2 linked regions of the Homo sapiens genome follow. The protein of the gene in region 1 purifies or fractionates together with the protein of each later gene. This does not show direct contact. Each region holds a gene or a part of one and is shown in the gene's direction. Other genes may lie near its edges.

The links.
Region 2: the proteins of ZNF221 (region 1) and CDK11B purify together in Homo sapiens (affinity purification with mass spectrometry; one large-scale study listed by BioGRID and IntAct). This does not show direct contact.

What each region holds. Positions count from the first base shown.
Region 1 is NC_000019.10:43,957,418-43,961,228, forward strand, and holds part of ZNF221 (zinc finger protein 221), read left to right. Parts: intron 1-2,769; exon of another isoform or gene 2,770-2,939; intron 2,940-2,958; exon of another isoform or gene 2,959-3,811. UniProt on the Homo sapiens protein: May be involved in transcriptional regulation.
Region 2 is NC_000001.11:1,642,005-1,645,815, reverse strand, and holds part of CDK11B (cyclin-dependent kinase 11B), read left to right. Parts: intron 1-526; coding exon of another isoform or gene 527-553; coding exon 554-690; intron 691-3,307; coding exon 3,308-3,430; coding exon of another isoform or gene 3,431-3,469; intron 3,470-3,811. UniProt on the Homo sapiens protein: Plays multiple roles in cell cycle progression, cytokinesis and apoptosis. Involved in pre-mRNA splicing in a kinase activity-dependent manner. Isoform 7 may act as a negative regulator of normal cell cycle progression.

The sequences.
Region 1 (3,811 bases):
CCACCTTGGCCTCTCAAAGTGCTGGTATTACAGGCATGAGCCACCATAACCCGCCTGGAGAAACCTTTATACCTAACTTAAAGTATGTAAGAAAGCAGCTTTAGGCTAAACTTAATTTAACATAATGATCTAAAGATTTTCACCCTGTTGGAATGAGTCCCATGACTCTCTCTCTTTCTTCTTAGTTTCACCTTTATCATTGTTTTTTAAATGACCTTTAAAAAATTTCTAGCTTTCTGGGATGAGTCGTTTGACTCTGCCCTCTGCCTTTTTCCTCTTGCTAATTAACCTAATGTTTTTATTAACATCTTTAATATCTTTAAAGGGAAGCTGAGACAGCAAATCTGATAAGGCTTCTAGGACTGTTGTTCAGTTTTGCAAGAGTTAAGATGTCAACTAATAAATAAAATCAATACTGAGCCACAAACAAAAGAAAAGATGTTTTAAGTGGGGTCTTGTGAATTGCAATCAAGAAGTACAGATCTAGCAGTCAGCTAAATCATTTCCTGTTCTATCCAGGCAAGGTTGGGCAGGGGCTTATAAATGTTTACTGTAAGTTTACATATCTGGAAGGTATTAGTACAGTCCATGATTGATGTCAGTTGGTTAGCAACTTAGGATGTCTTTGGTTGATGATCAATCTAGTTCAGCATAGCTGTTTCCCCAAGAGTTTCGCAATCAGGCCATGTATAAACAATTCCAATCAAATGCAGCTGGTTTTACAATTTGGCCCAGTTAAACAGGTTAAAATCCATCTGGATGTGTACATAACTGAGGTCCAACTCCACATGCCTCTTTTTAGAAACTTCTGACATAACCATCTCCATTTTGAGTTTTCTTTTTACAAAAGTCACGTGGGGTATCCATGCGAAAGGGGCCCCCTTAGCCACAGCATTTACCATGACCTGGGTAAGAAGCATATTCAGCAGATGAATATCCCAGTCATCATAAATTCAGTCCCACGTGGCTTGCATGCGGTATATCAGCTGCATCATCTGGGGTATCCCACCGAGCATTTATAGGGTGAGTTGAGCAGTCCGCTTTTTCAGGGCAAGCAGACATTACCATGTCTTTTATCCAGTTGATCAGGCTGGCTGTTCCCTTGGGAACAATCTGTTAACATTGATAGTGAGATTCAGGCAATATGGTTAAATATTGAGTTTATTCAAACACAAAATTTTAAGATGTCCACCTGGGAGGACACGGACTTCAAAAGATTGGATAAGTGCTCTGAAGTGGAAAGGTTTGAGAGTCATTATGTAGGCAGGGTCTAGGAAGCTTAACAGGATGTCAGCATTTTCTATACAAGATTAATGCATAGTTATAGCAATTCGATAGCAGTGTTTCCTTTTATTGGGAAGAACGTATTTAACATTCTGCATTAGAGATGTAATAGTCAAAGGGGTCTTTTATCTCAGACAAAGAATCTTTTATCTTAGATGCTATCTGGTCTGAGCCAGGAACAAGAAAACAAAGAAGGAAGTTAAGAGGTCAAGCTCAGTGACTCAGTTTCCTTCGGGCCTAACAACTTTTAGAAGCCCAAAATAGATAAGACTATTGGGTTTTTGGTTGTTTTTTTTTTTTCACATCTCCTGTGTGTCTGCATCAGGTGTTTACCGTCTGTAATTGTTGCATCATGTATCACCATCTGTAATTGTTTCATAGTGAACTGTGGGTCCTACATAAACCCAAATATGCTCTTCAATGCAACATTTAAAACCAAAGATGCTGCTACTTAGTTTCTCTCACAATCCAGTTGAGTAAAGATTCCTTAAGAAGCTACAAAATAAACAATTCCTTCACACTGTACACTGTAGTTTCAGTTTCTTGGTTTTACCCTTCCCATACACTGATTGCCTTTTGGTAACCACAGGTCTTAGAGGTACTTACTGTTGTCCTGGTATATTTTTTCCCTTAGGGACAGCTTTGAGGCAAGTGGCTAAAGCTTAGATTCACTAAAATTCGAACTTGGTCAAGCATCAGAGTCCAACCCAGTCCTTTTAATTACATTTGATATAGTTTGGATGTTTGGTCCCTCCATATCTCCAGTGTTGGAGGTGGGGCCTAGTGGGAGGTGTTGGATCCTGGGGGTGGGTCCGTCATAAATGGCTTAGTGCTATCCCCTTGGTGATTAGTGAGTTCCTGCTCAGTTAGTTCATGTGAGATCTGGTTGTTTAAAAGAATTTGGGTCCTCCAATTTCTCTCTCTTGTTCCTGCTCTCACTTTGTGACATGCCTGCTCCTACTTCACCTTCTCCCATGAGTGAAAGCTCCCTGAGGCCTCACCAGAAGCTGAGCACATGCCAGCACCACATTTCCTTTACAGTCTGAATAAATGTAAGCCAGTGAAACCTCTTTTCTTTATAAATTACCCAGCCTCAGGTATTTTGTTACAGTGACACAGAAATGAACTAATACAGAAAATTGGTACTGAGGTGCAATGCATTGCTATAAAGATGCCTGAAAATGTGAAAGTGGCTCTGGAACTGGCTAATGGGCAGAGGTTGGAAAAAGTTTGGAGGGCTCAGAAGAAGATAAGAAGATGAGGGAAAACTTGGAACTTTTTTTTTTTTAACTTTTTCACTGAGCCATGGGAACTTCTTACAGACTGATTAAATAGCTGTGACCAAAATGCTGGTGGGAATATGGACAATGAAGTCCAGGCTGATGAGATCTCAGATGGAAATGAGGAAGTTATTGGGAACTGGAGTAAAGGTCACCCATGTTATGTCCTAGCAAAGAACTTTGCTGCTTTGTGTTCATGCCCTAGGGATTTCTGGAAGCTTGAACTTAAGAGTGATAACTTAGGGTACCTGGCAAAAGAAATTTCTGAGCAGCAAAGCATTCAAGAAGTGGCCTGGCTGCCTCACTGCTTCAAACAGCCTACAATTATATATGGGAGCAAAAAAATGACTTAAAGTTGGAATTTATATTTAAAAGGTAAGCAGAGTATAAAAGTTTGGAAAATTTGCAGCCTGGCCATTTAGTAGAGAAAGAAAAAGCATTTTTAGGAGAGGAATACATGTCGGCTGTGGAGCAACCACTCGCAAAAGAGATTTGCATGACTAACAGAAAGCCAAGTGGTAATATCTGAGACAATGGGAAAAAGACCTGGAAGACATTTCAGAAGTCTTCAGGAAAGTCCCTCCCATCACAGGCCTAGGGGCCTAGGAGAAAAGAATGGTTCCAAGGGCCAGGCCCAGGGACCCCCTGCCCTGAGCAGCCTCAAGACATTGTGCCCTGAATCCGGCCACTCTGGCTCCAGCCTCAGCTTAGAGTGCCCCAGGCGCAGGCTGGGTTGCAGCTCCAGAGGGTTCAAGCCTTGATAGTTGTGGTAGTTTCCACATTGTGTTAAGGCTGCAGATGCTCAGAATGCAAGCATGAAGGAGGCTTGGCAGCTTCTACCTAGATTTCAAAGGATGTATGAGAAAGCCTGGGATCCCAGTCAGAAGCCTGCCACAGTGGGGGAGCCCCAACAGAGAACCTCTACCAGGGCAGTGCCAAGGAGAAATGTGAGGGCTCCCCACAGAGTCCCCACTAGGGCACTACCTAATGGATCTGTGGTAAGGGGACCACTGCCCTCTGAGAAGTGGTCCTGAGACCACTGCTCAGTCATATCACTTGGCTGCCCAAGGCCTTGGGAGTCTATCTCTTATACCAGGATGTGGGACATGGAGTCAAGGATTATGTTGGAGCTTTAAGAGCCCTGGCTGGAGTACAGTAGCACAATCCTAACTTGCTGCAGCCTTTAACTCCTAGACTCAAGCTATCCTCCTGCCTCAGCCTCCCAAGTAGCTGGGATTACAGGCTCA
Region 2 (3,811 bases), on another chromosome or scaffold:
CAGAAACAGGCCAATACAGCAGGAAGATACAGCAATGATACGTGTGAATGCATCTAACCACAGAGCCCAAAATCCATGAAGCAAACACCGATCGAATGGAAAGAAATGGATCATTTATTAATTAGAATTGGAAATGGCAGCTGGGCACGGTGGCTCGGGCCTGTAAACCCAGCACTTTGAAAAGCGGAGGCAGGCGGATCACGAGGTCAGGAGATTGAGACCATCCTGGCTAACATGGTGAAACCCTCGTCTCTACTAAAAATACAAAAATTAGCTGGGAGTACAGGGCGCACGCCTGTAATCCCAGCTACTCGGGAGGCTGAGGCAGGAGAATCGCTCGAACCCGGGAGGCGGAGGTTGCAGTGAGCCGAGATCGCGCCACCGCACTCCAGCCTGGGGGACAGATGAAGACTCCGTCTCAAAGAAAATAAAATAAAAAAATGAAAAAAAAACTTCACGGATTGAATTACGTAGAAAGCCAGTTTACAAATGTGGACAAAAACGCGATAAGCAAGCTTCTGTTTAGGGGGAATGATGGCGTGTGCCTCTTCAGGGACCGCTTGGAGCAGTTAGAAAGGAAGCGGGAGCGGGAGCGCAAGATGCGGGAGCAGCAGAAGGAGCAGCGGGAGCAGAAGGAGCGCGAGCGGCGGGCAGAGGAGCGGCGCAAGGAGCGGGAGGCCCGCAGGGAAGGTAGGCGGCGCGGTGGGCAGCTGTGCTCGGCGGGACGCGTGTCTGCTGCCCCCTGGTGCTGGGCACTTGCTGTCACAGGCGGGCGCTTGGTTCCGGTGCTTGCTTTTCGCCCCTGCCTTTTTTTTTTTTTTGGAGGCAGAGTTTTGCTCTTGTCCCCCAGGCTGGAGTGCGGTGGCGCGATCTCGGCTCACTGCACCCTCTGCCTCCCGGGTTCAAGTGATCCTCCTGCCTCAGCCTCCGGAGTAGCAGGGATTACAGGCACCCGCCACCATGTTCAGCTATTTTTTTATATTTTTAGTAGAGACAGGGTTTCACCGTGTTAGCCAGAATAGTCTCTTGATCTCTTGGCCTCGTGATCCACCCACCTCGGCCTCCCAAAGTGCTGCGATTACAGGCGTGAGCCACCGCGGCCGGCCAGTACGAGCTTTTATAGTCACCCACGTCCTCACCTTAATGGAGATCTTTATTTCTTCACCCAGCTTCCGGTTTCTGTCTCGCGTCCTTTCCTTACACCCCACACAACTCCCTGGAGCTTATTCTTCAAGGCAGGTCTAGGTCTAGTAGTAATGAACTCCCTCTGCTTTTGTTTATCTGAGAATATCCTCATTTCTCCCTCATCTTTGAAGGAAAGTTTGCTGGATACGTGGTTCTTGGTTGACAATTTTGTTGTTGTTGTTTTGAGACAGAGTCTTCTTCTGTTGCCCAGGCTGGAGTGCAGTGGAGCGATCATAGCTCACTGCAACCTCGAACTCCTGGGCACAAGTGATCTTCCCACCTCAGCCTCCCGCGTAGCTGGGACCTACAGGCGTAGCGTGTGCCACCACACCTGGCTCATTTTTCAGTAGAAACAAGGTGTCCCTGTATTGCCCAGGCTGGTCTTGAATTCCTGGGCTCAAGGAACCCTCATGCCTAGCTGACAGTTTTTCCTTTTCACTTGGACTATTTCAGCCCATTGTCTTCTGGCCTCCAAAGTTTCTGATGAGAAATCTGATGATCTTATAGAGGATCCCTTGGATGCTTTAATCTGATGACCTGATTGAGGATCCCTTGGATGCTTTGAAGATTCTCTTTGCCTTAGGCTTTCAACTGTTTAATAATGGGTTTTCCTGTGGGCCTCTTGACTTCATTCTACCTGGAGTTCACTGAGCCTCTCTAATGTTTATATTTACGGTTTTCATCCAATGTGGGGGTTTTGAGGAATTCTTCAGATACCCTCTCTGCTCCTCTCCTCCCTCCTGGGCTCCCACAGATCTGTTGGGGTCCCCGAGGCCGCTCAGCACTGCTCCCTTTTCTTCAGTCTCTTCTGCTTTCTTTTCCTCAGACGATGTGATTTTATTGTCTTCAGGCTCACCGATTATTTCTTCTGCCTGCTCACATCTGCCTGTGAGTTTCTGTTGTGAATATTTACTTTTTAGTGTCTATTGTGAGCATGTACTTATTAGCTCTGGAATTTCTCTCTGGTTTCTTGTTGGATCTTCTGTCTCTGTTGATATTTCCGTCGTGTTCACGCGTCATTTTCTTGACTTTCTCCACATCTTCCTTTCGTTCTCTGAGGAACTGAAGGTTAAGACAGTTCCCTAAAGTCTTTGGGACATCTACCGTCAGGTGATTTTCAGGAACCGTGTCTGTTGGCTTCTTTTTTTCCCCTCTGAATGGGACATACTGTCCTATTTCTTTGTTTCTCTTGTGTTTTTCTTAGTCAAAAAAATGGACATTTGATTCTCATGATGTGATTCTTCCTGGTCCCCACTCAAGGGTGTGCACTTGTTGTTTTGGTTGTGCTGGGCTGTGTCTGTGGGGTCGGCCTGTTGTGGAAACTCAGGGTCTTCACGGGTCTTTTCTGAGCCTGAGCCTTTTCCTGGTCACGTGCAGCCACTTTTTAACGTTCCCGTCAATACAGATGTTTTTAATGTTCTTGTCCTGAAGTGTCTGCCTCCTAAAGGGGGAATAGAGAGAAATGAAGGGGGCAACGGGGGACGTGGTGCTCATGCCCTGGAAGTACCTTCAGCTTGGGGGTGGCCGTGGCTGCTGCCTCTTCATGCCTCTGGGGTGGGACACGCAGTCATCACACTGACCTCGGGTGTGTGTGTCCGTCTGCCCACCTGGGTCCGGCGAGCTGCATGCAGGCTGCTGCCTGCCAGCGGGGAGTGAGGTGGGAGCCACTAATGTGCGAAGCGGTGACGTTGATTAATGAATCACAGTTTACTCTCCAAGATTCCCCCTGAAGTTGCAAACCTTCAGTAGACTCCAGAGCACCTCAGTAGTTGCACAGGCCTGATCCTGTGATGCAAGTGTTGTCTCGGTGGGGAGACTGATTCCCAGTGCTTCCTACTCCATCTTTCCAGAATCTTCTCCCGCCCCTTCCTTTTTGACCAGTGAAGATCAGTCTAGAAGGTCCACCTGGGTCCTCGGGCTCACGGCCTCCAGGTTGGAGCTTTTTCTCCCTGGGCTTCCTGGGAGACCTCTGGCCTCTGACCCCGATGCTGTCAGCACCCTGTGCACGCTGTGGGTGTGTCTGCCAGGTGCGGGTGTGGGAGACGAGGCAGCTGTGCCGGGTGGGGCCTTTTGAGGAAGGCAGTGCTGCTAGTGCCATCTCCCTCTCTGCCCTGCGCGCCAGTGTCTGCACATCACCGAACGATGAGAGAGGACTACAGCGACAAAGTGAAAGCCAGCCACTGGAGTCGCAGCCCGCCTCGGCCGCCGCGGGAGCGGTTCGAGTTGGGAGACGGCCGGAAGCCAGGTGAGGCCAGGCCGGCGCCTGCGCAGAAGCCAGCACAGTGTGAGTCTTTTCTGGGGGATGTTTGGCATAAGTGTGTAGGATTCATTTAAAGCCCAGCTAAGTAACCGCTTCAGAAGAAAGTGAGAGATGTGCTGGCTGAAGTCCTCTCGTGTCGTGAGAGGGACCGTGAGTGTCTGTGTGCGGCCAGGACACAGGACGTGTGTTTATCCGCTGGGACATTCGCCACTGGCCCCGTTAGAGAAGTGGCTTCCAGCGTCTCTGGATGAGCTGGTTTCCGACCAAGCAAAGTTAATCGTTACGTGAAAGGCACTAGTTTTGGGGTGGTGGTAGCTTGTTTGTTTAAAAACATTTCCCCAAATTCACCTTTATGGTTTATCTCAT